4 linked regions of the Homo sapiens genome follow. The protein of the gene in region 1 interacts with the protein of each later gene in a pairwise test. Each region holds a gene or a part of one and is shown in the gene's direction. Other genes may lie near its edges.

Evidence for each region.
Region 2: the proteins of PM20D2 (region 1) and EPDR1 interact in binary tests that used the Homo sapiens proteins (3 or more experiments, as listed by UniProt).
Region 3: the proteins of PM20D2 (region 1) and RGS12 interact in binary tests that used the Homo sapiens proteins (3 or more experiments, as listed by UniProt).
Region 4: the proteins of PM20D2 (region 1) and DNAJC11 interact in binary tests that used the Homo sapiens proteins (3 or more experiments, as listed by UniProt).

What each region holds. Positions count from the first base shown.
Region 1 is NC_000006.12:89,141,582-89,149,063, forward strand, and holds the start of PM20D2 (xaa-Arg dipeptidase), read left to right. Parts: upstream 1-4,473; 5' UTR 4,474-4,563; coding exon 4,564-5,028; exon of another isoform or gene 5,029-5,285; intron 5,286-6,943; exon of another isoform or gene 6,944-7,482. UniProt on the Homo sapiens protein: Catalyzes the peptide bond hydrolysis in dipeptides having basic amino acids lysine, ornithine or arginine at C-terminus. Postulated to function in a metabolite repair mechanism by eliminating alternate dipeptide by-products formed during carnosine synthesis.
Region 2 is NC_000007.14:37,944,627-37,951,651, forward strand, and holds part of EPDR1 (mammalian ependymin-related protein 1 isoform 1 precursor), read left to right. Parts: intron 1-4,213; coding exon 4,214-4,422; intron 4,423-5,573; coding exon 5,574-5,770; 3' UTR 5,771-7,025. UniProt on the Homo sapiens protein: Binds anionic lipids and gangliosides at acidic pH.
Region 3 is NC_000004.12:3,310,021-3,317,045, forward strand, and holds part of RGS12 (regulator of G-protein signaling 12), read left to right. Parts: intron 1-4,790; exon of another isoform or gene 4,791-4,929; intron 4,930-6,049; 5' UTR 6,050-6,150; coding exon 6,151-7,025. UniProt on the Homo sapiens protein: Regulates G protein-coupled receptor signaling cascades. Inhibits signal transduction by increasing the GTPase activity of G protein alpha subunits, thereby driving them into their inactive GDP-bound form.
Region 4 is NC_000001.11:6,691,806-6,698,830, reverse strand, and holds part of DNAJC11 (dnaJ homolog subfamily C member 11), read left to right. Parts: intron 1-7,025.

The sequences.
Region 1 (7,482 bases):
TCTCAAACTCCTGACCTCAAGTGATTCGCCCATCTCGGCCTCCCAAAGTGCTGGGATTACAAGCGTGAGCCACCACGCCTGGCCTGCAAAAGCTTTTAACTTATCTCAGACCTAAGTCTGTTTCCAATTCATCTTCCAAATAGTCATCAATTATTCTTGTAGAACAAATTTCTGATCTTGTCTCTCTCCTGCTTAATAACATCCAATAGTTTAGCCATTGTCCAAGTTTTATTTTACTTTGAGACAAAAGTCTCACTCTGTTGCCCAGACTGGAGTGCAGTGGTGCAATCATGCTTACTGTAGCTTTGACCTCCCGGGCTCAAGCGATCCTCAAACCTCAGCCTCCAGAGGAGCTGGGACCACAAATGTGTGCCACCATGCTTGGCTTATTTACTATTTATTTTATTTTATTTTATTTTTTGTAGAGTCAGGGTCTCCCTATATTGTCCTGGCTGGTTTTGAACCCCTGGGCTCAAGCTATCCTCCCACCTCAGCCTCTTAAAGTGCTGGGATTACAGGCATGAGCCACCAAAACCAGCTAAAGTTGTAATTCCTTAGCAATGTGTTGTACACTTCCTCTATGTCCCTTCATCCCCAATCAAATTCACCTTTCTGCTCACCTACTCTCTTAGTTGTCTGCTTTCTGCCATATGACAACCAGCTCTTCCAACACCTTAGCCCAGATTGATTTTACATGTGCTATCTAGTGCGTGTTACGTGTTTGTTTCAGCTAGAGAAGTTTCTGGAGTTAACCAAGTTTGCATGTGTGTCTGGGGATGCTTAGGAGAATGTTGTAAATGACCAGTATACCAAAGTGACACTGTGATTTGCTTCTTCTCCATGCTGGCAGCAGCAGTCCTCAAATCGTGCAGTGGCCAGCATTTTGTTCAGGAGAAAATTGCTGTAGTTCCAAGTATTGTTAAACTGAAACGATGTAGGCTGGATTCACATGCACTTTTGGAAATATCATATATTTTGAAGGTATTATAAGTTTGATTTTTTTGGTGAAATATCTGCACTCTCTCCTTGGATTAAATCATTTTTGCACTTTTTATTCCTTTCCCCCACAATTATTATTATTATTATTATTTTTTGAGACGGAGTCTCGCTCTGTCACCCAGGCTGGAGTGCAGTGACGCGATCTCGGCTCACTGCAAGCTCCACCTCCCGGGTTCACGCCATTCTCCTGCCTCAGCCTCCCGAATAGCTGGGACTACAGGTGCGTGCCACCACGCCCGGCTAATTTTTTGTATTTTTTAGTAGAGACGGGGTTTCACCATGTTAGCCAGGATGGTCTCCATCTCCTGACCTCGTGAACCACCCACCTCGGCCTCCCAGAGTGCTGGGATTACAGGTGTGCGCCACCGCGCCCGGCCCCCCACAATTATTTTTGTTTGTTTGCTTTTCATTCCTGAAATCCTGCACTGAAGCTCTCTGGTACTTCTATTTACTTTTTCTCTACCTTTAATTTTCTTCATTTTATTTTTCATTCCATTCCTTTTTCTGTTTTCAAAAACTTTTTTTTCTCATTTAGCTCATGCTTTGCCATGAGCTCATGCTTTGCCATGTTGGGGATTTTATTTTATTATTTCTATCTTAATTCAAAGAATATAAACCATACAAAAGCCTGCTGCCTTTTCAAAAGGAGTTCTGAATCTGAAGCCCAAAATAATACCCAGTATAGTTGTACAATTTGGCTGTATTTTAGTTGCTTTTCCAGGGTAAAGGAAATTTTTGATCTACTCTTTCCACCACAGCACTCATTTGTCATGAATGTCCTGTTCTCAAAGTTATTGAGTCAGTTGTGATGACAGCTGGTTTTCTAAGCAGCCAGGAAAGAAGAGGAATCTTTATATATTTTTTCCCCTTTTTTCTCATCAGGAGCCAAGAAAGAACATTTATATACTTTAAAACCAGTCCTCAAGAGAGAACTATCTGCACTCCTCTCACCCCCCCAAAAAGGTTATACATCTTAATACTAAATTCTGGATATTGTATTGTTTCCTCAGATCCAGCACCAGCTAAAGGAAGGGAGCTTGTATACATTTTTTTTTGTTTCTAATAAAAACATACAGGTTCCTTACCAGTAGCACATAGATAGGGTAGACAGTTGTATGAATATTATGGGTACAAATGAAAGTAATAGTAAGAATTTATGAGCTGACCAGATTCTAGAAAGCCACATGTCCAACTCCATCAGCTTCCAGAAGCAATTCTTCCTGCCCCCAGCTCCACATAAAGGACTGAGAAGTCTAGGAAGAAGCATAACAATGTCTATTGGTAGTCAGTGTCGTTTAATGGTTAATTGCTGCCATTATTCAGTTAGTTTATTAGATTCAAGAAGAATAATCAGCCAACAAATATTTATTAACACAGAGGAAATGCTGACCATAAGATGTTAGGTGCTGGGGAATGCAGTGGGAAAACAAAAGAGTTTAAAGCCTGGAGGGGAAGATAAACGGTCAGCAAGTTATCACAGTTTATCAAATAAATGAATTCAAGGGTGCAAAATACCATGAGCAAGAAATACAAGGTGTCAACAGTAGAAACTGAATACATACGTGCCTGTGGGCATGTATACCCACCCACCCACCCACATATATACACAAGGAACAGAGCTTGAAATGAATCTGTCTTTCCTCTACCTCAAGTGGCAGCTTTGTTAATTCCTGCAAAGCAATATAAATAGCAGCTTCTATATGAAATTATATGCATCCCTTTTCTGTTGCTGTTTATTGATGCCTGAGGAGGGCAAACATGGGTTCTACTGATGTCAGCAGGCAGAGTTGCTGCAGTAAAATTTATTCAAAATGAGTGTTGTGGGTTCTGATTTGAATAGATAAACTGGAGATGCATTTATGAATTTGCATGTCTGTTTACACAAGCAATAGACCATGGTGGCTGAAAGTCAGCCACTGGAGGCTGACTCTGGCTTCTGTTCTACAGTGGGTCCACTACTTACTAGCTCTATAATCTTGGACATACATCTGTAAAATGAAGATAAATAACCACATTAACCACCTCATAGTTTGCTGTGAGGATTAAATGAGTTAACAAATGCTAAGCCCTTGGAACAGTGCCTAGCACAGAGTAATTGCTCTACAAATGTCACCTATTGCTTTTGCTCTCCAATCCCCCCTTCTCCCCTTTTTTTAGCCAACTAACTGAGCAGGATAATATTGGATCTCGTGGATACAGGGTAATTTTCTTCAGCAGAATACCAGAGAAAGATTTATTATCGCCAAGGGGGCCCAGGAATTTAATAACACATTTGTTGTTTTTAGAGCTGAGTTTTTGTTGGAGTGTTAACTGAGAAAGAAAGTTTTCAGACGTGAATGGAATGTGACATTTACTCTGGTATTATTAGCATATAGAGTAGTAAAAACAGTAGTTGATAGTCTTCGTGCATGTTAGCTTCCCTTAGACTTATTTTCAAAATATTCATTTGGTTTATCACATTAATATATTGTGTCCCATTTAACATAGTTGAGACAAATTAAGGAAAGATGATAGGGTATGAAGAGCTGATAGAAGCTTTTAATATGTGGAAAACCTCAGAATATAAACATCTACAGTGTTATTAATAGGCATACCGTCAACAACAGTTTTTCAGACTTTGTGGTTCACTCTGGAGAAAAACAAGAGCATGACATCTTGAATTTCTTCACTGGGTAATTAAAAAACTCAGTTATAATGTAACACCAGCTGCACATATCATGTTAGTGGAGTTCAGCATCAATTAAAATTATAAACGAAACCTGTCATATGTTCCCTTTCAAAGCTGTTCAAGACAACTGTCCAAATCAACAAAACAGTATGAATATTTACTACCATAAATCTTTTAACTCTTTGGTTTTAACTCATTTCAAATTTTTAGTTCTACTCTATTCAAATAAATTATTATATAATAGCTAATACATACCAAGAGCTTACTGCATAATCTAGCTGCTGTTCCAGACATTAGTAACCAATGAGAAAACTGTAGAGAGTAGCTGCAGCTTTTAGTAATACAATGTCAAGGAGAAGAAAGTGGGGGCAGTACCGAAACTTACGTACAGTACCGTCGTTAGTACAGCATTGACACTGACGGCCTCCTTCAGGAAATACAAACCTTGTGAGGTTTTAATTACTAATGCTACAGAGTGGCGTTTTTCCGAGGACTGTGTTCCACTTGGTCTGTCTCTGATGGCTATTAACTAATAACCGTTCTCATTCTGCTGCTGTGGGAAATAAGCAACAACGGAAAAGTAATCGATAATCTTAGAGCATAACTCAAAGGCCAGAGCAGCCAAGGAGGTGGAAGAGTCCCGAGCCCTGCCTTCTCCACAGCACCCCCAAAACCCCACGGCGGGGCAGAGCGCCTGGTAGGGTACGAGCGGCCGCCAGCGTTTCCCGCGCGGCGCCGGGGGCGGCCCCGGGACTGGGGGTGGTGCCCTGGGAGCTGTGTGGCCGCGTGCGCGCTCCGCCGGGGTCCTGGAGGCCTCTGGGCGCGTGCGCGGGCGGTCGCTACCTGCGGCCGAGCCAGGGAGCGAGAGGGCGCAGAGGGCAGCGGGCTTGGGCAGCATGAGGCCCGGAGGGGAGCGGCCCGTGGAAGGGGGCGCGTGCAATGGCCGCTCCGAGCTGGAGCTACTGAAGCTGCGCTCGGCGGAGTGCATCGACGAGGCGGCCGAGCGGCTGGGGGCCCTGAGCCGCGCGATCTGGAGCCAGCCCGAGCTGGCCTACGAGGAGCACCATGCCCACCGCGTGCTGACGCACTTCTTCGAGCGGGAGCCGCCCGCGGCCTCCTGGGCAGTGCAGCCGCACTACCAGCTGCCCACGGCCTTCCGCGCCGAGTGGGAGCCGCCGGAGGCCCGGGCACCGAGCGCCACGCCACGCCCGCTGCACCTGGGCTTCCTCTGCGAGTACGACGCGCTGCCCGGCATCGGCCACGCCTGCGGCCACAACCTCATCGCTGAGGTCGGGGCGGCGGCCGCGCTGGGCGTGAGGGGGGCCTTAGAGGGCCTCCCCAGGCCGCCTCCGCCCGTGAAGGTGAGGTGGGGCCCGGGTGCGGGACCCTATCCGACTGCCCGGGTCGGGGGCGACCCGGGAAGGGCGGGACTCTCGTGCGTCCCGCGCGCCTCGGTGCCCTCCCGCCCGGGGCAGGTGTGTGTGGGACCGCGCTAAACCTGCGGTCCTCGCCTCGGCGCAGGAGCAGAGCTGAACCCCCAGTCAAAGTCAGTTCGCGTTGCCGACCTGGCGACATCTTGCAGATTATTGTTTCCTCCTCTCTAGTTATAAACAGCTCTGCTGAGTTGTTCCCTTAGGAAAGAACTTACACCCAAGCCTGGTGTTTGTTACGGGTTATTTTTGGTAACTGAGAGAGGCAACAGCAATTTGCTGACAAGGTTGTGCCATCAATCTCAGGAGGAAATAACTTCTTGTAGGTAATCCTACGGCCCCTTTTTATTCGTCTCCAAATAAATCTTTTGTTTGTGGCAGTCCTAGAAAATGTGATTCAAGTCATTGGTATTTGGATAGGAATTTTCAGTCGCTAGAACCACCAGACCCCTAGAAGTATACAAATAAAGGGGAAGTGAATGAGCATTATACATAGATGAGTTCATCCTTAAGTCTTAATTTTTTTGTTTTATGATTTTAAGAAATACCTCGACTCTTTAAACAGGGAAATGTCGTTTATGTTTGTCGTAGGGCAAGTTTAATCCTGTTTTACTCTGCTTTTCCAGATGGTATATTCTACACTATGAGCTAAGATTCAATCGTCATTCAGTTAAGGGGAAAACAAATGTTTTATTTTCATACTCTTTAGTTCATTTCCCCCAGTGTCAGTAACCTTCCTCTTTTATCCTAACACTACATCTTTTGTGGCTTTTTCACTTTAGCTGCCTTCTTTTTTCTGTCTCTGGAGGCTCGTTTTTGCATTTGTTAGGTTTTTGTTTGGGTTGGGGGAAGCATGCTTTGCCATGTCACAAACACTGGAGAGATTTCGCTTCAACCACGTTTTTAAAGGTTCTGAGTAGTCAGCGAGAGACATATCGTATTTAATGAGTTAAGGGTCAAGAATGAAGAGCGGTGGGCAGATCAGTTGAGGTCTGGAGTTCGAGACCCGCCTGGCCAACATGGTGAAACCTCTGTCTCTACTAAAATATATTAAAAAAAAAAAAATTAGCTGGGCGTGGTGGCTCACGCCTGTAATCCCAGCTACTCGGGAGGCTGAGGCAGGAGAATCGCTTGAACCCAGGAGGCAGAGGTTGCAGTGAGCCGACATCGCGCCACTGCACTCCATCCTGGGCAACAGAGCGAGGCCTCCTCTTAAAAAAAAAAAGAGCGGCGGCTTCATGTCAGAGTTTGAGCACTGTAGAACCGCCAAAAAAAAGCTAAACTTTGAGAAATGTACACTCTTTTTTTTTTTTTTTTTTTTTTGAGACAGTCTCATTCTGTCGCCCAGGCCGAGTGCAGTGGTCCTATCTCGGCTCACTACAACCTCCGCCTCCCGGGTTCAGGCGATCCTCGTGCTTCAGCCTCCTGAGCTGGGATTACAGGTGTGTGCCACCACGCCCAGCTAATTTTTGCATTTTTTAGTAGAGACAGGATTTCGCCATGTTGGCCTGGCTGGTATCGAACTCCGGATCTCGGGTGATTCGCCCACCTCGGCCTCCCACAGTGCTAGGATTACAGGCATGAGTCACCGCTCCCGGCCCACTCTTCTAACTTCAAATGGTTGTTCTCAATTTTAGCAAGGTTAAGTTATTAATTATCTGAAAATGGAATTTAAGTTGATTTCCTTTGCAAGCCAAGACTTTTCCAGCTTGTTTCATTGTGTTCTTATACATGATCTTGAAAATATATTAGTTGTTTATTTTGATTTTTAAAATTGTTTGAAGCAGTTAAGCTTAAATATCAAAGTAAAATGTTTATTCTGTAAAGTTCTCTTTTGTTTAATTAGGTGTTTGGTGACCAATAAATCTGCCTGGTTGAACTGGTGGAATCGAATTAGTAAGTTTGTGTAATAGTTGGCTGTTTCTAACTGTGGCATTAAGACTTGTTTAATGTTCTTCATAAAGGATTAATGAGTTCAGACTTTTAAAATAGGTAGCCCAGTAAGGAATCAGAGTTTAGGCCAGAAGATCAGGACATCTAATCCTAATTCTGCCTGAAGACTTGCTCTGTGACCTGGGGCAAGACACTTCACTCAATTCCTCAAAAACACCCCCTGTAAAATGATGATAGAGATCACCCACCTACCTCACAGGGTTGTTGTGAGGATAAGTAGTAAGTTAACAGAAAGTTTCTGACTCGTAAAGTACTTAAGAATAATTATATACATACATACACTGAAAGGCTTAGTCGAGAGGAACCTTTTTGAAACAAATCCTAACAAATTTTGAGGGACTAAACTTGTAGTATTTTTTTTTATCTTTGCCATTAGTTGACTTGTAAAATTGGGAAAAGCTTTTTATAGTGTCTTTAGTACATACTTTGCAC
Region 2 (7,025 bases), on another chromosome or scaffold:
ATAAAACCATCAGACCTTGTGAGACTTATTCACTACCAGAAGAAAAGCATGGGAAAGAACCGTGCCCATTATTCAATTACCTCCCCCCAGGTCCCTCCCATGACACATGAGAATTATGGGAGCTACAATTCAAGATGAGATTTAGGTGGGGACACAGCCAAACCATATTAATGACACTTCTGTGATCCTGTGGATTTGGGGAGTGATGGCGATGATTTCAAGAAGGAAACCCCCTCTCCTGCACATGGCTACATATTCTCCAGGGAACAACTATTGCAGTCTGAGAAGCACACAACAGGGATATCAGCAAAAGCTAGGAATGCCTTTCTAGCCCAGATATCTAGCACTGGGGAAAGCACAAGATATTGCTGGTGGTGAGGAGAACAATGAAGACAACTTGTTTTTTGGGTGGCCCACGGGTCATTAAAAGTATCACAGGACAGGATTTGTGTATGGACAACAATTCCCATATTTACAAATGAACAATGCTCTAAGAGTTGGGTTAATGTTGCTGTGTTTCTTCAATCAGTGCTTAGGCTCTATTGTGTCAGAGATTTAGCTGGTTATGAGAAAACAGTGACAATCCAAACCCAAACTTTTTCAAAGGGCTAACAGTTTTACGTTGACCCTGCATGCATATTATAAAAAATTAGCTCCATTTTTGAGCAATATCTCATAAAATGCACACTTATATTTCTTTCTATATTCATTCTCATTTCTAAAGGTATGTGTCTGGGTTATTTTTACCCTTGTAAGCCGTTTCAAATCTTTTCTGAAATAAACAAGATACACATAAAGGTGTAAAATGATGTCATGTTTATATTTCCATACTACCTCATAGAAACCTGAAGCATACGGCTACTAATAATACAATGATGTGCTTCATAATGACGTTTCAGTCAATGAAGTGGTGGTCCCATGAGATTACAATGGAGCTGAAAAACTTCCATTGCCTAGTGACCTCATAGCCATAGTATGTGGTAGCGCAGTGCATTACTCACATGTCTGGGGTGGTGGTGGTGTAAACAAACTTACTGTGCTGTCAGTTGTACACAATTCTAGCATATAAGTAATTACTGTATTATACTTTTTTTTCTTCAACTTTTATTCTAAGTCAGGGGTACATGTGCAGGATGTGCAGATTTGTTACACAAGTGAACGTGTGCCATGGTATCTTGCTGCACGGATCATCCCATCACCTAGGTATTAAGCCCAGCATCCATTAGCTATTCTTACTGATGCTCCCCCTCCCCCAAGCTCCACCAACAGGCCCCAGTGTGTGTTGCTTCCCCGACGCGTCCATTTGTTCTCATCATTCAGCTCCCGCTTATAAGTGAGAACATGCAGTATTTGCTTTTCCGTTTCTGTGTTAATTTGCTGAGGATAATGGCTTCCAACTCCATCCATGTCCCTGCAAAGGACATGATCTTGTTCCTTTTTATGGCTGCATAGTATTCCATTGTGTATATGTACCCCATTTTCTTTATCCACATTTTCAGTCTATCATTGATGGCATTTAGGTTGATTCCACGTCTTTGCTATTGTGAATAGTGCTGCAATGAACACAGGTATGCATGTATCTTTAGAATAGAATGATTTATATTCCTTGGGGTATATACACAGTAATGGGATTGGTGGGTTGATGGTATTTCTGGTTCTAGGTCTTTGAGGAATTGCCACGCTGTCTTCCACAATGGTTGAACTAATTTATACTCCCATCAACAGTGTAAAAGTGTTCCTTTTTCTCCACAACCTCGCCAGCATCTGTTGTTTTCTGACTTTTTATTAATAGCCATTCTGACTGGCATGAGATGGTGTCTTTTTGTGTTTTTGATGTGCATTTTTCTAATGATCAGTGATGTTGGGCTTTTTTTCCTATGTTTGTTGGCCACATGTATGTAATTACTATATTATACTTTTATCGTTATTTTAGAGTGTGCTCCCACTTACATAAAAGGTAACTGTGAAACTGCCTCAGGCAGGTCCTTCAGGAGGTATCCAGAAGAAAACATTGTTATTATAGGAGGTGACAGCTCCATGCATGTTACTGGCCCTGACAGCCTTCCAGTGGGACAAGATGTGGGAGTGAAAGAGGGTGATACTTATGATCCTAACCTTGTGTAGGCCTGGCTAATATCTGTGTTTGTGTTGTAATTTTTAACACAAAGTTTTTTTTTTAATAAAATAAATTTTAAAATAGAAAAAAGCATATCAAATAAGGACATAAAGAAAATATTTTTGTATAGCTGTGCAATTTGTGTTTTAAGCTGTCTTACTACAAAAGAGTCAAAAAGTTTAAAAAATCAAAATGTATATAAAGTTAAAAAGTTACAGGAAGCTAAAATTAATGTATTATTGAAGAAAGGAACATAGTTTTTATAAATTTAGTGTAGCCTAAGTGTACAATGTTTATAAAGCCTACAGAAGTGTATAGAAATGTCCTAGGCCTTCACATTCTGTCACCACTCACTCACTCACTCACCTACCCAGAGCAACTTCGAGTCCTGCAGGCTCCATTCATGGCAAGTACCCTATACATGCGTACCATTTTTTATATTTTATCCCATATTTTTACTGCACCTTTTCTATGTTTAGATACATAAATGCTTACCATTGTGTTACAGTTGCCTCCAGTATTTAGTGCAGTCACATGCAGTACAGGTTTGTACCCTGGGAGCAGTAGGCCATACTGTGTAGCCCTGTTGTGTAGTAGGCTGTACCATCCAGATTTGTGTAACTGCACTCTATGATGTTCGTGCAGTGATGAAATAGCCTAATGACACATTTCTCAGAACATAAGCCTATCATGAAGTGACGCACGACTGTGTTTTGACTATAAAGACAGTAACCATTTCTAACATTTTTTTCCGAAGAAAATAGTTTTTAAGCTCGGGCTTGGGCTGGAGAGCAAATGTCTTCCCTGAAGTCTCCTCTAGTGCATTGGGTCTCATAAGCCACAGATAATTTGTTGGCTATTTTTATTTGCTGATGACAAGTCACTTCTCTAGGCTCTTCAGCCCTCAAGTGTTGCAGATTTCACTTTCTGAGGTCATGGCTGCAAGACACATTTTCTTGACCAGCAGCTGTGGCCTGAGTTTTAGATTGACAGTGAAATGCATAGAAACACAGCAGGCTTCCCCCAACACCAAGATGTCTCAGCTTTAAGGAAGATACAGGACTGATGCCAATACTGCATGGCTGGTGACTCCTGGGCTCAGCCTCTGAATATCTCCCTGTCACTCCCCAGGAAGGGTGAGCAGGTGGTCACGGGAGGAGGCTGAGAGCATGGAGAGAAACTCAGCTAAGGGAGTCATTTGCTCTGGGGTCGCCTCAGCTTTTGTCTTTGCTCTCATCTCAGCCACTGCAGGGTATGTGGGCTGCGCCCGTGCCGGATCAGCTATGCGCATCAAAGCCCCTTACTCATGACTGCTCGGCAGTGGAGGCAGTGAAGCACAGGCACTCGGTCCATCCAGTCCTCAGTGTGTTCTTGTCCTATGTTCAGTATACCCCCATAATTCCTTGACTGAGTGCTGTGAGAGAAAATGCACCACACAAGAGTCAAGTCCTCCTGTGTCTCTGTGGGTAAACAAAAGTTCACAAACCAGCTCTTCAGCCGGAGCCATATCTTCCCCATGTTTGTATGCTAAGCACAGGGTCTGGCATATACTAGGTCCTTGGTCAAAATTTGCCCAGTGAATATACACTTTTGACCTCAATTTTTTTTTTTTTTTTTTGATGGTGGACGGGATCTCACCCAGGCTGTATGTAGTGCGGTGGCATGATCATGGCTCACTGAAGCTTTGAACTCCCAGGCTCAAGTGATCCTCTTACTTCAACCTCCCAAGTAGCTGGGACTACAGCTGTGCACTGCCATGTCTGGCTAATTTTTAAAATTTTTTTTCTAGAGACAGGGGTCTCACTATGTTGCCCAGGCCGGTCTCAAACTCCTGGGCTCAAAACGTACTCCATCCTCGGCCTCCCAAAGTGCTGGGATTACAGGGATGAGCCATCATGCTCGGTCTGACCTGTGAATTCTAATTATTTCATATGCAGGTTGTTTCATGTGCCTAGTGTTTATAAACGTTAAGTGATTGCCTAGCTAGTAATTTCTTTCTATTTTAAAAGTAATATCTATCAAAGGTGTTTGTGCTGTTAAAAGGCACGAGGATGGTAACATGAAGTCCCAAACTACTTCTTTCCATCTGTGTTTCAGATTATTTGAATATATTTTGCTGTATAAGGATGGAGTGATGTTTCAGATTGACCAAGCCACCAAGCAGTGCTCAAAGATGACCCTGACACAGCCCTGGGATCCTCTTGACATTCCTCAAAACTCCACCTTTGAAGACCAGTACTCCATCGGGGGGCCTCAGGAGCAGATCACCGTCCAGGAGTGGTCGGACAGAAAGTCAGCTAGATCCTGTAAGGGTTCAAAGAATCTAAGCATTGTATTCAGCATGCATGATGGGGAAAAAGGTTTAAGTCCTTTAAGGAAGGTAGTTTTTAGGGAAACATCCGCTTAATCAAAAATTTTTTAAAGCCTCCACTTAGGTCTGCAGGTTACTTTGCTCACTATGTGGCAACGGGATCTAAGCTTCATATTTGAAACACCTCAGCCTTCTAGTGCCACCTGCACCTCTCTGCCACTTTGGCTCCTGTGAACTTAGCCTTGATTTTGACATTTTATGGTCGTCCCGAGGTCTGTGACATGGAAGGCATCTGTCTAAGGCACACATTTGAATTGGGTGCCTCCTTTTCTTTCCCCCACTTCCTAAAGTTGCAGGGGTCAAATCTACTCCCATCATGCTGAGTGTGCAAACCAGCCTACTTTTATGTGAAGCCATTCTCTGCCCTGCTGCTGATATACGCCTATCCCAAGACAGTTTTTACCACACAGGCATTCATGCTGTGGAACACAGTATGGTGATTTCTCAAAAAATTAAAGATAAGACTGCCATATGACCCAGCAACTCCACTTCTGTATATATATATATGCCCCAAAGAATTGAACGCAGAGACTCAAACAGATATTTGTACACCCATGTCCACAGCAGCATTATTCACAATTGCCAAAAGGTGGAAACCCAAATGTTCATCAACAGATAAATGGATAAACAAAATCTGGTATAGTCATACAACAGAATATTATTCAGCCTTAAAAAGGAAGGAAACACCAGCACATGCTACAGCCTGAGTAAACCTTGAGGACATAATGTTAAGAGAAACAATGCAGGCAGAAAATGACAAATACAGTACAATCCCACTTACATGAGGTATGTAGAGTCGTCAAATTCATAGAGACAGAAAATCGAATGATGAGTTCCAGGAGCTGGGAGAGGAGGAATGGGAAGTTCGTGTTTAATGGAGACAGAGTTTCAGTTTGGGAAGATGAAAAAAGTTCTGGAGATGGATGGTGCTGATGGTCAACAAATGTGAATGTACTCAAGGCCACCAAACACTTAAAAATGGTAAAATGGTAAATTTTATGTTATGTACATTTTACCACCATAAGAAAAAATATGAACTTCTTGCCTGTCTTCTTTATTTAAAAGTCAACTTTTTTCCTCTTATAGATGAAACCTGGATTGGCATCTATACAGTCAAGGATTGCTATCCTGTCCAGGAAACCTTTACCATAAACTACAGTGTGATATTGTCTACGCGGTTTTTTGACATCCAGCTGGGTATTAAAGACCCCTCGGTGTTTACCCCTCCAAGCACGTGCCAGATGGCCCAACTGGAGAAGATGAGCGAAGACTGCTCCTGGTGAGCCTGTGCATAGGGAAGCGGCAGCATCGGATGTCAGCCCCCTGCGGCCCCAGCTGGAGATGGATATGAGACTAGTCAAGATGTGAATGCTAATTGGAGAGAAATATAATTTTAGGAAGATGCACATTGATGTGGGGTTTTGATGTGTCTGATTTTGACTACTCAAGCTCTGTTTACAGAAGAAAATTGAATGGCGAGGGTGTGGCCATATGAACTGACTAGATGGCTAATATGGACACTTTGGGTATTTCTAATGCCTGTTCAGGGCTGGTTTTCTGCATGCACGGGTATACACATAATGCAGTGCCATGCACATAGGGAAGGGTCAGTAAGAGAAGTTTGCCTTGGCAGCAAGTATTTATTGTTGACATTATTCAGAATTAGTGATAATAAAAAGCAGAGTGATTTTGGTCAATTTTATTATTAATTCTTAAATTCCCTGCAGAGAATGCCCCCTTTATTGCTGCACCAGGGTTGGCATTGCTCCCACTGAGCCCTACTCCACCCTGTCCCTGCACTCCCTTGGTTGCCAAAAAAATGATAACTTAAATCCCTTCCAGACTTAAGAATTTTATGGCATGGCCCAATTGATATAAACATTTAGAAGGAAATGAAAAGCTAAAATAGGAAGTAATTATTCCTCTAAAGAAACATTTTGAGCAAGGCAGTTTAGAGAATCCTAATGTCTACACTGGCATAGCACGAGCCATGTAAGCTTCTTTTTTTTCTATGCAAGAGTATTGATGTATGTGCTGAATCTTCACAGACTTGTCAATACACAGGCAGTATTCTAAAATAGCACTGAACAGGGAGTCAGGAGACTATTGTCTCCTAAACCCAGGACTAGAGTTCCCTCGTACTGTCACTCCTTTGGTCATTAAATGCACTGGGCTTGCCCGCACTTTGGCCTTCCTAGAACACTGCTTCATAACCTCTCTGTCTGACTTCTGCATCTCCTTCCAGGTCAGCTCATTCACAAGAGTTGCTCCCAAGCCTGGATGAGTTGCACCTTGCATCTTGAGCATGCATTTCTCACAATAATTATTAAGCTGTGTGATAATTTCTGCTTTCAGGACACTCATCCATTATCTTGGCTGTGAGCTCCTTGGGTACGGGTACCTTGTATGTTTACTTTTATATCCCTAGCACAAAGCAAGTGCCTGGCACATAGTCAGTGCCCTAAGTATTCGTAGAGTGAAGAATGCCAGCCTCTCTTGTCCCTGGTTTCCTTATGTGTTGAATGTGGTTGAGTTTGT
Region 3 (7,025 bases), on another chromosome or scaffold:
GCTGGGACCCGGGAAATGGCAGGTGTCCTCTGAGGGGAACCGTGTGGGGGAGGAGCTGGGACCCGGGAAATGGCAGGTGTCCTCTGAGGAGAGCTGAGCAGGAGAGGAGCTGGGGCCTGGGAATGGCAGGTGTCTGCTGAGGGGAACTGTGTTGAGGAGGAGCTGGGACCCGGGAATGGCAGGTGTCCGCTGAGGGGAACCGTGTGGGGGAGGAGCTGGGACCCGGGAAATGGCAGGTGTCCTCTGAGGGGAACCGTGTCGGGGAGGAGCTGGGACCCGGGAAATGGCAGGTGTCCTCTGAGGGGAACCGGGCGGGAGAGGAGCTGGGGCCTGGAAGGCCAAGGCAAGGGCTGTCTCCAGTCCACGCTGCACCCCAAGAAGGGAAGTGTGGAGAGGTATTGACTGGTGGCTCAGTAAAATGGCCTGGAAGTGGCCTTGGTGATTCCAGAATCTGCCAGCTCACTCCCTTTGGCACCGTGTCCTGCTGTGTCCAGGGCGGGCAGGTCCATGCTGCTCTGGGTCCAGGGAAGGTCTGGGAAGAGTGGCCAGGGACTTGGAGGGCCTCTCAGGTGAATGATGGGAGGTGGCTGGATGCAGGGATGGCCAGTGCGGGTCTGCATGGGGCGGGTATCAGATCGTCTGGTGTGTGTGTCCCTGATGAGGTGGGAGGGGGGTGCCAGGTGGGTGTTCGGCAGCTGTGGGCACTGTGAGGTGGTGGTGGGGGGAGGCTGCTGGGACATGATGACTATGGGAGGGTGTGAGGTGGGCAGGCGCCTGCGGGGGCAGGTCCCAGGTGGAGAAGGTGGCGTGGTGTCTTGCTGTCTCAGGCCCTTCCTCTGTGCATCCACGTAAGTGTGGGTAAGCCAAGAATAGCCTGGGTTCAAATCCACCTTTGCCGTTAATTGGCTGTGTGCTGGTAGACAAGTTACTTAGCTTCTCTGTGCCCCCACTCCCTCATCTGCACGCGAGAATTGTAACAGAGCCTTCCTCAGAGCGATGATGGTGTTTAGGATGACATGCGCTGCACAGCAAGTCCTGGCCGTGGCGGCTGCCATTGCAGCCCGTGGGGTCACCCTGGAGGCCGTGATTGCTGATGTTGTGCTGTTCTTGTGCCTTGCTCTCTTCTTCTCGGTGCCCCCAGACTCTCTCTGCCTTCGGAGGACGGCGTCTCTCTCGCCTCACACTGTGTGCACGGGCAGTGCGGACGGGTGCTGGCTTGGTCTTTCCAGCCCTGCCTCGCTCGGGGCCTGCTGCATCGTAGCTCAGGCCTAGGACCCATCTCTGTACCTGCAGGTCTTGGGTGCTGCCCGGCATGAGTGGAGGAGTTTATCAGAACAGGACCTTTTATAGGAGGTTTTAACTTTAGAAGGGAATAGAAAAGTGTCATGGCAGCAATATTTATTTCTAGATCACCCTGAGTTTTTTTTCTTTGTTTTGTTTTATTGTCCTCTTTACACCATGAGTTTTTAATGATGAATGAGTGAAGGAGTGACAGTGCGGGTTGAGCATCCCTTATCCAGATGCTCCAGAATCGGAAACCCTCTGACACCGATGTGGCACCTCAGGCATAGCTGAGCTAGTGACACCTTTGCTTTCTCATGGGTCAGTGTACACAAACCTTGTTTCATGCACAAAATTATCAAAAGTACCGCACAAAATTACCCTCAGGCTGTGTGTATAAGGTGTATATGAAACATAAATGAATTTCCTGTTCAGACCTGGGTCCTATCCAAACATATCTCATTACGTATATACAGATGTTCCGAATCAGAAAAAATCCACAGCCCTTCTGGTCCCAAAAATCTCTTCTAAGGGACACTCAGCCTGTGTGACGTGGTCGGTGACTCCTGATGGGAGGTGGCAGTGCTGTGCGGCGAGTGGGGACCTTCGTGTCACATCCCATCTGTGCCTCAGGGCTTGGATGAATTACTTCTGGCTGGACCTTGTTCCCTTTTCCACACAGTGAAGAGGCTGGGTTAAATGATCTCCAGTCAAGGTGATTCAGAGTTAGCTGGAAGGTGTGTAGGGGGAAGTTGGAGCTTCCTGGCCTTGCCCCAGACTTACTAAGTCAGAGTCCCTGGGAGGTGCAGGGGCTTGGGAGCAGGCGTTCTTACTGGTAGCCCCGATGGTGTAATGGAAGTTCAGCTGGAATCCAGTACCCCATGGTCTTCTAAATTTCACTGTCTGTTCTGCTAGCTTTACTATTAATTGATACAGTTTTAAAAAAAATTAAACTATAAGCTGAACTTATGTGATTATTTTGGGAGGCCAAGGTGGGAGGATTGCTTGAGGTCAGAAGTTTGAGACTAGTCTGGGCAACATAGTGAGACCTCGTCTACAGAAAAATTAAAACATTAGCCAAGGTTCACTGGGTGTCTTCTCCTTGGCCCCTTTGCCCACGTGGTGAACACTGTGGACCTGTGAGGGTGTGAGGGTTGCGTTCCTGCGTTCTGGACTCTTTACCCACTACTGAGAAGCAGCCGTTTGAAATATGAGTTGGCAAGGAAGATCAGCATGTAGGCTTAGACCAAGACGGTATGTGCAGCCTCCTGAGCTAACTGGGCCTGTGCTTGAGCCCAGTGATGAGCAGCCTCAGCAAGAGGAACCACCACCTGAAAGTCGGGGTCTTACCTGGCCAGGAGAGAGAGGAAGATCACGGTGCTGCTGAGATTCTTGTGCTTGACCAGGAAGCTGATCTCCGGGAGCTGTCTCAAAGACTGGGATGAATGTGGAGATGGTCCTGATGTCCGGGGAATATTCTGCCGAAATCAGAGCAATTTAAATTGCCAGAAGGAGGTGAAGGGCAACCACAGGTTCCAAGGAAGACAAGCTGAAACAATGCAAACTGGTTTTATATTAGATACGTGACTTAAAATATCTCAATACAGTTTTCTCCAAAAAAAAAAAAATAGTTAGCCGAGTATGGGGGTGTGCTTGGTATGGCTTGAGCCCAGGAGTGAGTTTGAGGCTGCACCGAGCAATGACTGTGCCACTGCACTCCAGTCTGGGCAATGGAGTGAGACCCTGTCTCTAAAAAATAAAAACAAAGAAACGTGATTATAGATAATAAGATATTACTTACATGAGTTACAAACCATTTCTTTTTAATAAGCAGAGGCCCATGACAGTAAGAGTCTAGTAGAAAAATTGGGTGGACTGCATAGAAGACATTGTCCATCATTATGTCACACAGTGTGAGGCGGATGGTGCGAATAAACTGGGAAGTCATGTCTTTCATTGAGGCAGCATCTATTCCTGTTTGGAAGAGAAAGCCGAGAGGTGTTCTGTTCCCCGAGGAAGCCATCAAGGCTTCATGACCTGCTGTCCTGGGGCTGTTCACAGTGATAGCTGGCACTTGCCGGGAACAGCAGCACCTTTGTTGTGTGACAGATGCTTTTCTGAGCGTGCTTTAGTGAGACCGTTTCACGCATGTCCTGCTTTCCCTCTCCCCTCACCCGTGACAAAGTGATTCCCCCTTGTATTTGTTTCCTGGGGTTGCTGAAAGAAATTACTGCAAACTGGGGGGCTTAAGACAACACACATTCATTCTCCTGCGTTTTCGGGGGCCTCGTGTCTGCAGTCAGTGTGACCTGGCTGATGGCAGGTGTGGCAGAGCTGGTTCCTCTGGTGACTTTAAGTCTGCTTCCTTCACCTTTCCGGCTTCTGGAGGTGACCGCCTGCCCGTCTGCCTGGGCTCGAGACCCATCCTTGAATCCCTGCAGTCTCCGCATCCTTCCTCATGTGGCCGTCCCCTCTGGCTCTGACCCCAGGCTCACACAGGCGCACCCCACACTCTCCCCATCTCTAGAGCCTTCACGTGGTCACGTGGATGGGAGGAGCCATCCAAAAGCTTGGGAGTGAGGATGTGGGTGTATCAGGGGCCATCAGCCAGCCTGTCACACCTCTTAAGAAGATCGATCCCCAGACGTGTTTCTTGGCCAACTTTTACATTTATTTATTTATTTTTTAATGATGATTTTTAATAATTTTTAATTATTAAAAAATTATAAAATAATTTTAATTATTTTATTTTTTAAATTCATTTTTTAATGATTTTAAATAGTTAAATGCCCAGTCCTAATATTTAAATTATTAATACAGTACTACTTAGATATTGAGTAATGTAATTTATATTCATTTTTTACTCTTTTCCATCAAAACATAATTTTACTAAGTACGCATGTTCTGTGTCCGTGTTTTGTCATCACTGAAGCCACTTTTGGAGTCACCTAGTAATAGCCTTTCCACTCTATCTAGTTCTGTAGCTTTTATGTGTGTAAATTACTTCAAATCTGTTTATGATCCTATTGCTGGAAACTTTATCCCAAGACACAAAAATCTTTTCTATTAGAAGTTATTAACTTTAAAACAATTATTTATTTTATTTTATTTTATTTTTTGAGACAGAGTCTCGCTTTGTCACCCAGGCTGGAGTGCAGTGGCACGATCTCGGCTCACTGCAAGCTCCACCTCCCGAGTTCATGCCATTCTCCTGCCTCAGCCTCCCGAGTAGCTGGGACTACGGGCGTCCGCCACCATGCCCAGCTAATTTTTTTTGTATTTTTGGTAGAGACAAGGTTTCACCGTGTTAGCCAGGATGGTCTTGATCTCCTGACCTCGTGGTCCACCTGCCTCGGCCTCCCAAAGCGCTGGGATTATAGGCGTGAGCCACCGCACCTGGCCTAAAACAATTATTTCTTTAAAAAAACATACCCTCTATTCTATTTTGTGTCTTCACAACACAATCACTTACTGTATTGCTTTTTAAAGTGATCTTTAAAGAGTCTTGCAGAAGAGACTACACAGCAGGCCCGAGACCATCCTGAGAGGCCTGTGTGCAAGGCTGGCCCCCCGCTGGTGTCAGGACGGTGCCCACCACCCTCAATGAAGAGGGGCTCCCTGTGCTTAGCTGCTTGTGTGGGGAACAAGGTTTGTGCTGAGAACCTTCCTTTCTTCTGGGAGTCCAGAGTCTGGGCACGAAGCAGGCAGAGGGTGCCCATGTGCCCAGCCCCCAGTAAAAACCCTGGCACCGAGTCTCTAGTGGGCTTCCCTGGTGACGACACTGCACATGCGTTGTCACGGCTCACTGTGTAGGGAGTTAAGTGCGTCCTGCGTGACCCCGCTGGGAGAGGATTCTGGAAGCTCAAGCCTGGTTTCTTTGGGACATCGCCCCATGGACCTCTGCCCTTGCTGATTTTGTGTGGAATCCTTTCGCTGTAATGAATCTCAGCTGTGAGAGCACCTTTGTGCCAAGTCCTGGGAATCCTAGGGAATCACTGGCCTGGGGGTGATCCGCGGACCACTGACAAGTTTGTTCTCAATGACAACCAATACTTTTATACCCCCTGGAAGAATTGAGTTAATATGACATTTCTGCTTTTTTAGGTGGTGGTTTTTATCTAGCCTGTTGAGTGGCCTCTGCAGTATTGATCGAGGTTGTTTCAGGCTAATACGTTTTCCCCCACACAGTATATTCAAAATAAATTAATGTGGGAGGGTCATGGAATATTAGGTGACCCCTCTCCTGAGGGAAAACTCTATGTCAGGGGATTTATGATCAACTAAGGGGTTAGACTCAGTGTTCTGCAGGTGCCTTTGAACCTGAAGCCTGTAGCAGGCCTTGCTTCTCACGCTTGGACTCTGCCATCCTGTGAAACGTGGGTTTGGGTGTGTTTCTTCTGTGTGGAGCCCGAGAGTCTGCCTTTCAGACGGGCTGCCAGTCCACGGACCACACTTTGAGTAGCAAGGGGCTCTTTCCATCCAAACAGGGTGTGGAAGCAGTGCTGGGAAGCAGTCCTGCATCCTCACACCCGTGGCAGGTGGGCCTGGCAGGAACTTGTGTGGTAACAAGGTAGCAGTTGTGGGAGACATTTTCTACTCCGAAAGGAAGTTTCTTAGCCTGACTTGAAGATTTATTATCTATAGACACTTAGAGGCTCTTTCTGTGGTGGTTTTTATTATGAATTATCTTTTTGTGTTTAGCTAATACCAGTGAGTGGTGGAGAAAGATGGGCTCTTTAATAATGAGCTGTTCGTTTTTCTTTCTTAGGGCACTGTTTGAAGAAGCAAACATGGTAGCATCAAGCATTCCTTGAAATATGGCTCCAAGGGAACAATGAGACGTGCTCTTGGTCTTGGAAGCTCATCAGAATGTTTAGAGCTGGGGAGGCCTCCAAACGCCCATTGCCTGGGCCGTCGCCCCCAAGGGTGCGGAGTGTGGAGGTTGCCCGGGGGAGGGCCGGCTACGGATTCACGCTTTCGGGACAGGCACCCTGTGTGCTCAGCTGCGTCATGAGAGGGAGCCCTGCGGATTTCGTGGGCCTCCGAGCTGGAGACCAGATACTTGCTGTCAATGAAATCAACGTGAAAAAAGCATCTCATGAAGATGTAGTGAAATTAATTGGGAAGTGCTCTGGTGTCCTTCACATGGTGATTGCTGAAGGCGTCGGCCGCTTCGAATCCTGTTCCAGTGATGAAGAAGGGGGACTCTATGAAGGAAAAGGCTGGCTGAAGCCCAAGCTGGATTCTAAAGCACTAGGTATAAACAGAGCAGAGCGAGTCGTGGAGGAAATGCAGTCTGGTGGAATTTTCAATATGATTTTTGAAAACCCGAGCCTTTGTGCGAGCAATTCAGAGCCCTTGAAATTGAAACAAAGATCCCTTTCAGAGTCGGCCGCAACTCGATTTGATGTTGGACATGAAAGTATAAATAATCCAAATCCCAACATGCTTTCTAAGGAGGAAATATCAAAAGTTATTCATGATGATTCGGTTTTCAGCATTGGACTAGAAAGTCATGACGATTTTGCATTGGATGCAAGTATTTTAAACGTGGCGATGATCGTGGGCTACTTAGGCTCCATTGAGCTTCCTTCCACGAGCTCCAACCTGGAGTCCGACAGCTTGCAAGCCATCCGCGGCTGCATGCGGCGCCTGCGGGCAGAGCAGAAAATCCACTCGCTGGTGACCATGAAGATCATGCACGACTGTGTGCAGCTGAGCACTGACAAGGCTGGAGTCGTGGC
Region 4 (7,025 bases), on another chromosome or scaffold:
AGCTGGTATTACAGGCACACACCACCACAGCTGGCTGATTTTTGTAGTTTTTGTAGAGACAGGGTCTCACTGTGTTGCCCAGGCTGGTCTCAAACTCCTGAGCTCAAGCAGTCCACCCATCTCAGCCTCCCAAAGTGCTGGGATTACAGGCATGAGCCACTGCACCCAGCCAAAAAATATTTCTTAAATTTTTTTTTTTTTTTTACTTCTCCCAATGAGTGAAGGCACTTTCCATATTTATGGCTATATGGCTATAGGTTAAATCCATATGAAACATGCTCCCTTGCAGAAGTCACTTTCTGTTGTCTTCGTCAGCAAACTCGGTGTTAAATGTCATACTCAGGTGTGGTGTGCTGGTTTTCCATCCCGGGATTCCATTAGAAGCTCTGAAGGTGATGTCTGAACTTGATATTTGCTGGAATTTTTTGTGTGAAATCAAACGTGAAGTTGAAATAACGTGATTTAGTTGGAAAAAAGTCAGAGTAATCTTAAATCTTAATGTGTGGTTGGAAGAATATCTTAATACCTGTTTGTGTGTTTGCTGTCAGTTCTAGAGTAGTTGCCATTTAAGTATAGCTGTGAGAGGCAAGGCCCTGTTCCCACTGATACTTCAAAGTACCTTCAAAAGAGTGTCCTCAAAACTCTCAATGTTCAGTAGAGTTCAGAGAGTTTTCTTTAGAAATCTCAAATGGAAACAATTCTAGACAAAACCAGGGAATCCTACTTTAAAATTATAAGCATAGGCTGGGCGCGTGGCTCAAGCCTGTAATCCCAGCACTTTGGGAGGCCAAGACGGGCGGATCACGAGGTCAGGAGATGGAGACCATCCTGACTAACACGGTGAAACCCCGTCTGTACTAAAAATACAAAAAATTAGCCGGGCGTGGTGGCGGGCGCCTGTAGGAGGCTGAGGCAGGAGAATGGTGTGAACCCAGGAGGCGGAGCTTGCAGTGAGCCGAGATTGCGCCACTGCACTCCAGCCTGGGTGACAGAGCAAGACTCTGTCTCAAAAAAAAAAAAATTATAAGCATAATAGAGGTATATAATTGGATTAATATAGAAATGTCAACAATCAGCTGAAGAATCTCCCTCTCCAGGATTTAAACTTTAAAATATCCCCTTAAATTTGTATTCTAGAGCAGGGGTCCTCAACCCCCTGGCCATGGACCAGTACTGGTCTGTGGCTTGTTAGGAATTGGGCCGCACAGCAGGAGGTGAGTGGTGGGCAAGCAAGCGGTTAGCGTCGGGCAAGCAAGCGGTTAGCATCGGGCAAGCAAGCATCACCGCCTGAGCTCTGCCTGTCAGATTGGTGGTGGCATTAGCTTCTCATAGGAGCATGAACCCTATTGGGAACTGCACATGCAAGGGATCTAGGTTAGGTCCTCTTTATGAGAATTTGACTAATGCCTGATGATCCCAGGTGGAACAGTTTCATTCCACTCCCACTAGTCTGTGGAAAAATTATCTTCCATGAAACCAGTCCGTGGTGCTAAAAGGTTGGAGACCCCATTGTTGCCGCCGTTGGAGAGAGTGAAGCAGGCAGCTGGAAAGGACCCCCCGTTCTCCTATGACAAGACACATGATCTTTAATGATTCTCCTTCTAGATTTCCTGTTTACAGAGCAGGGCCATCATCTGTCGTGCCTGCCTCACACTGAGAGGAGGGAGTACTTTATCACTCACTGGGCACACCAAAGCCAGACAGGTTTTCTGGTTTAGTGTTAGATGCATCATCTGGTTCCTAAAATCTCACTCCTCTGAGATTTCCAGGATGATTTTCCAAAATTTATTTGGAGAAAGGATTCCTTAACTATAAATCAGAGTTAAATTTACCTGATCCATTAATTAGGAAATTTAATTGACACATTTCAAACCTAATTTATTCCCAAGACAAATGGCTACAGTTCTAACTTTATCATTGTCTTTGAAAGAATTTCATTTTTGCAGTGTTTGTAACCTGTTTGAAGACCTCTGGTCCCAATTGTTTTAACCTTAAGGAGCCATCCTCCTTTTCAACTTTTAAACACTTTTGGAAAAACACAGTTAAGTAAAAAATGAAGTTGTTAATAAATAGTTTTTTTCTTGCAGTCCATATATGGAGGTCAGTGTTCTGAGATCTTCATCCTTCCAGAACAGCCATGAAACTAGAAGTACAAAAGTATCACCTACCAGTAAAAAGTTTACCCCAAGTCCCTGCATTTTCATTCCTTCTCTGGTACAGGGTAGATCATTATTTTCACAATTGTGTGTTGTTGGGGTTTCCTTAGCTGCAGGTTACAGCCACAGAGTGAGGCCCAACAGTTGAGTTTGAGCTGCAGATGGAAAGGAAGGGCTAGAAGAGTAGAGGAAGGTCCCCTGGTCACTGGCAAGATTGTCCTAGGGTCAAAGTCACCCACAAAGAAGGAGACAGCAGACCCTCCAATCAGGACCACTGACTCAGCCATCTGCAGAAATTGACATGTAAAAGGCTCAACTGTGCCAATTTGAGCGACTCAAATACCTAAAGCAGTGAGGTGGTGTGTGTTTACACATTTATTGCTTTCTTATCAAACTTCATGATGGGCAGTTAATTTTGTCTTAATAAAAAATAAAGATGGCTCTGAAAAGGTCAGTTCCTTCATTTTCCATCTACTACATTATGTTAAAGTTTGATATTTATAATGACTCCAGTTAAATGTGTGCCTCAGGCACATAGAATTAAGCCTCGGTTGTCCAAAAACAACTTATTCAGATGTCTGCATTCCATAGGGTGTTCTGTAAGCCAAGAGGCTGAGAAGCAAGAATTTCAGCCCATGCTGCCTGCCTCTTGTGTGACCTTCAACGAGTCATTTAACCTCAGCCTCTACTTACCTGCAGAATGGAGGCACCAGTACTTCTTAGTTAACAATGGGATAGAGGGAGGCCACTATGTAGGGCTTTGCAGCTGGAGTCCAGTATTCAAATCCCATTTTACTCTTCTGGAAGTTCTATGCTTCAACGCTAGTAATTTAACCTTTCTGTTTCTCAATTTCTTTTTTTTTTTTTGAGATGGAGTCTCACACTGTCACCCTGGCTGGAGTGCAATGGCGCAATCTCAGCTCACTGCAACCTCCACCTCCTAGGTTCATGCAATTCTCCTGCCTCAGCCTCCCAAGTAGCTGGGATTACAGGCACACACCAGTACACCCGGCTAATTTTTTTTTTTTTTTTTTTTTTTTTTTTTTTAGTAGAGATAGGGTTTCACTATGTTGGCCAGACTGGTCTCAAACTCCTGACGTCGTGATCCATCCGCCTCGGCCTCCCAAAGTGCTGGGATTACAGGCATGAGCCACTGCACCTGGCCATCAGTTTCTTTAATGTTAGAATGTAGGTAACAGGTAATAATGGCTTAAGCACTTACTGTAGGCCAGGATGACCTGTGTGGTATGTGCGTTGCTAGGTGCTGAGAATGTATATAAATTGCCTGTCATAAGTAGGTATTTAGTTAATATATATTGTTATTTCTTGGATTTTGATAAGTTTGAAGTTTTGCTTACTTTAAAAAAAGACATAAGGATTGGGGGGTGGCTCACACCTGTAATTCCAGCACCTTAGGAGGCTAAGGCAGGAGGATAACTTAAGTCCAGGAGTTTGAGACCAGCCTGGGTTGGCATAACGTAGCAAGACTCCATCTTTAATTAAAAAAAAAAATTTTTTTTTTTTTTTTTTTGAGAGAGTCTCGCTCTGTCACCCAGGCTGGAGCGCAGTGGCACAATCTCGGCTCATTGCAAGCTCTGCCATCTGGGTTCACGCCATTCTCCTGCCTCAGCCTCCCGAGTAGCCGGGACTACAGGCACCTGCCACCACGCCCAGCTGATTTTTTTTTTTTTTTTTTTTTTGATTCGGAGTCTCGCTTTGTTGCCCAGGCTGGAGTGCAGTGGTGCGATCTCGGCTTATTGCAAGCTCCGCCTCCCGGGTTCACGCCATTCTCCTGCCTCAGCCTCCTGAGTAGCTGGGGCTACAGGCCCCCACCACCATGCCTGGATAATTTTTTTTTTTTTTTTGTATTTTTAGTAGAGACGGGGTTTCACCGTGTTAGCCAGGATGGTCTCGATCTCCTGACCTTGTGATCCGCCCGCCTCAGCCTCCCAAAGTGCTGCGATTATAGGTGTGAGCCACCGCGCCCAGCCAAAAAAAATTTTTTTTAATTAGCTGGGCATGGTGGCATGAGCTGTAACCTGTAGTCCAGCCTAAGGTGGAGGTGCAGCCGAAAAGCAGGTCAGTTGTTTACCGCATGCAGAGTCCAGTTAACAAGAGTGAGGCGCATACAAAGCCAGTGAATTTACTCTGAAGTCAGCTTGGGGAAGGGGCACGATGTCCTGCTGTACCGCTTCACTTTTAGAGCAGAAAGCAGGCACTTTTATAAGGTATAGGAGGAAATGAGCAAGGGCAGGGGTCCCCCTGCTATCTGGGTACTTTATCTAACTGGCAATTGAGTTGGCATCTTCCTGGGCAGAAAGAAGTAAAAGTGGCCATGGGGACATGATTTGGTCTGCAAATCCACTGTCAAGAGATCCGTCTTGGAGCACGTAGTTAGCTGAACTTGCCCCATAGAAGATGTCTGGTGAGGGGGAGGGGAAAGGTTATATTTGCATTTCTAAAGGGCTAAGTAGGAAGCAGGGTACCGGGGAAAGGGGGAGAGGAGAAAATAATTAAACTATCTCTTAGAAAAAATGGGGCTGGGCATGGTAGCTCATGCCTGTGAATCCCAGCACTTTGGGAGGCTGAGGCCAGCGGATCACTTGAGGTCAGGAGTTCAAGACCCACCTGGCCAGCATGGTGAAACCCCATCTCTACTAAAAATACAAAACTTAGCCAGACTTGATGGCGGGCGCCTGTAATCCCAGCTACTCATAAGGCTGAAGCAGGAGAATCTCTGCTGGGAGGTGGAGGTTGCCGTGAGCAGAGATCGCACCACTGTGCTCCAGCCTGGGCAACAGAGCGAGACTCTGTCTCCAAAAAAAAAAAAAAAAAAAAAATGGGGGTACTTGGTTACAGGAGGATTGCTTGAACCTAGAAGTTTGGGGCTGCAGTGAGCTGCAGTCACACCACCACACTCTAGGCTGGGCGACAGAGCGAGACTTTGTCTATAAAAAGCGAGACTCCGTCTATAAAAATAATAATAAATAAAAGGCTGGGCGTGGTGGCTCATGCCTGTAATCCCAGCACTTTGGGAGGCTGAGGCGGGTGAATCACGAGGTCAGGAGTTCGAGATCAGCCTGGCCAACATGGTGAAACCCTGTCTCTACTAAAAATACAAAAACTAGCTGGGTGTGGTGGTGGGCGTCTGTAATCCCAGCTACTCGGGAGGCTGAGGCAAGAGAATTGGTTGAACCCGGGAGATGGAGTTTGCAGTGAAGCAAGATCGCACCACCACTGCACTCCAGCCTGAGCGACAGAGCAAGAATCCATCTAAACGATAATATAACAATAAATAAAAATGTGAAAGACATACATGTACATAAATAAATTTAAAAATGTGAAAGACATACTTGGTATGCTTCATCCTGGCTAAGGATGAACTTTGCTATCCACTTGTAATATTACTAAAAATCATAGTGCTAGAATGTATGCTAAGCATTAGTTTATGAAATTCCTGAGGTTGGGTGTGGTGGCTCACGCCTTACAGTCCCAACGCTTTGGGAGGCGGAGGCGGGCAGATCACCTGAGGTCAGGAGTTTGAGACCAGCCTTATTAACATGGCGAAACCCTGTCTGTACTAAAAATACGAAAAAAAAAAATTAGCCGGGTGTGGTGATGCTCGCCTGTAATCCCAGCTACTTGGGAGGTTGAGACAGGAGAATTGCTCAAACCCAGGAGGCGGAGGTTGCAGTGAGCCAAGATTGTGCCACTGGACTCCAGCCTGGGCAACAGAGCAAGACTCTGTCAAAGAAAAAAAAAGAGGCTGGGCGCAGTGGCTCATGCCTGTAATCCCAGCACTTTGGGAGGCTGAGGCGGGCAGATCACCTGAAGTCGGGAGTTTGAGACCAGCGTGACCAACATGGAGAAACCCCATCTCTACTAAAAATACAAAAATTAGCCAGGCGTGGTGGCAAATGCCTGTAATCTCAGCTACATGGGAGGCTGAGGCAGGAGATTCACTTGAACCCGGGAGGCAGAGGCTGCAGTGAGCCAAGATCGTGCCATTGCACTCCATCTTGGGCAACAAGAGCAAAACTCCATCTCAAAAAAAAAAAAAAAAAATTCCTGAAGCATTTTTTACTTTCTGTTCAAAACACTGAGTTTGTTCTTTTTAAAAGACAGTGATCTCTCTGAACTTGTGCTTCCTGGAAAGTTGACATGGGGATAGGGAGCTTTCCTGGAAGTTGGGGCTAAGTATGGGAGTAGGGTGCAGGCTCAAGGATAACATTTTTTGGGTGTTTGGGGTAAAGATAGGATAGTTGTGAGCCAAGCAGAGAGGAGGCAGAGCTGGGGGCAGGGGTGGGCCCAAGAGGGTGCCCGGGAAGTGGAGTTTAGAGAAGCTGCCTGTGTGCAGGGAGGGGGCTGTTGAGGATGCCCCACCACTTCCAATGTCATCTCATAATGTGATTGGCAAACGTGAGGTTACATTTCACAATGTGTTTCTTTAATGATCTATAAGCCAGTTATTTTCTGCTTTGGGCATTTCAAACAATTGCTTCTTGAAATGTTAATGCTCTAATTTTGCATTATCTACCAAAACACCTCTTTTATTTTCTTTCTTAAAGAGAATTCAATGGAAAACTTTTGTATTTGCTGTGAATTTAGTAATAAAACAATGGAAAACGGGACATGAGAGCAACATGCTTTGCTTGGCTGTAGAATTTTATTGTCTGCTTTTTATTAACCTTTCATTTTAATTTTACTTACTTACACCTTTGTTTAAGAAAGGATGTAAGACAACAGATGAAAAAATAAAATAGCATATATTTTTTAAAGGAGTCACACATTTCTTAAAAAGAAGACAATTGAGAACATTGCTGCATTATTACCACTGTTACAGCATATGCCTGGTACAGATTGCAGTCC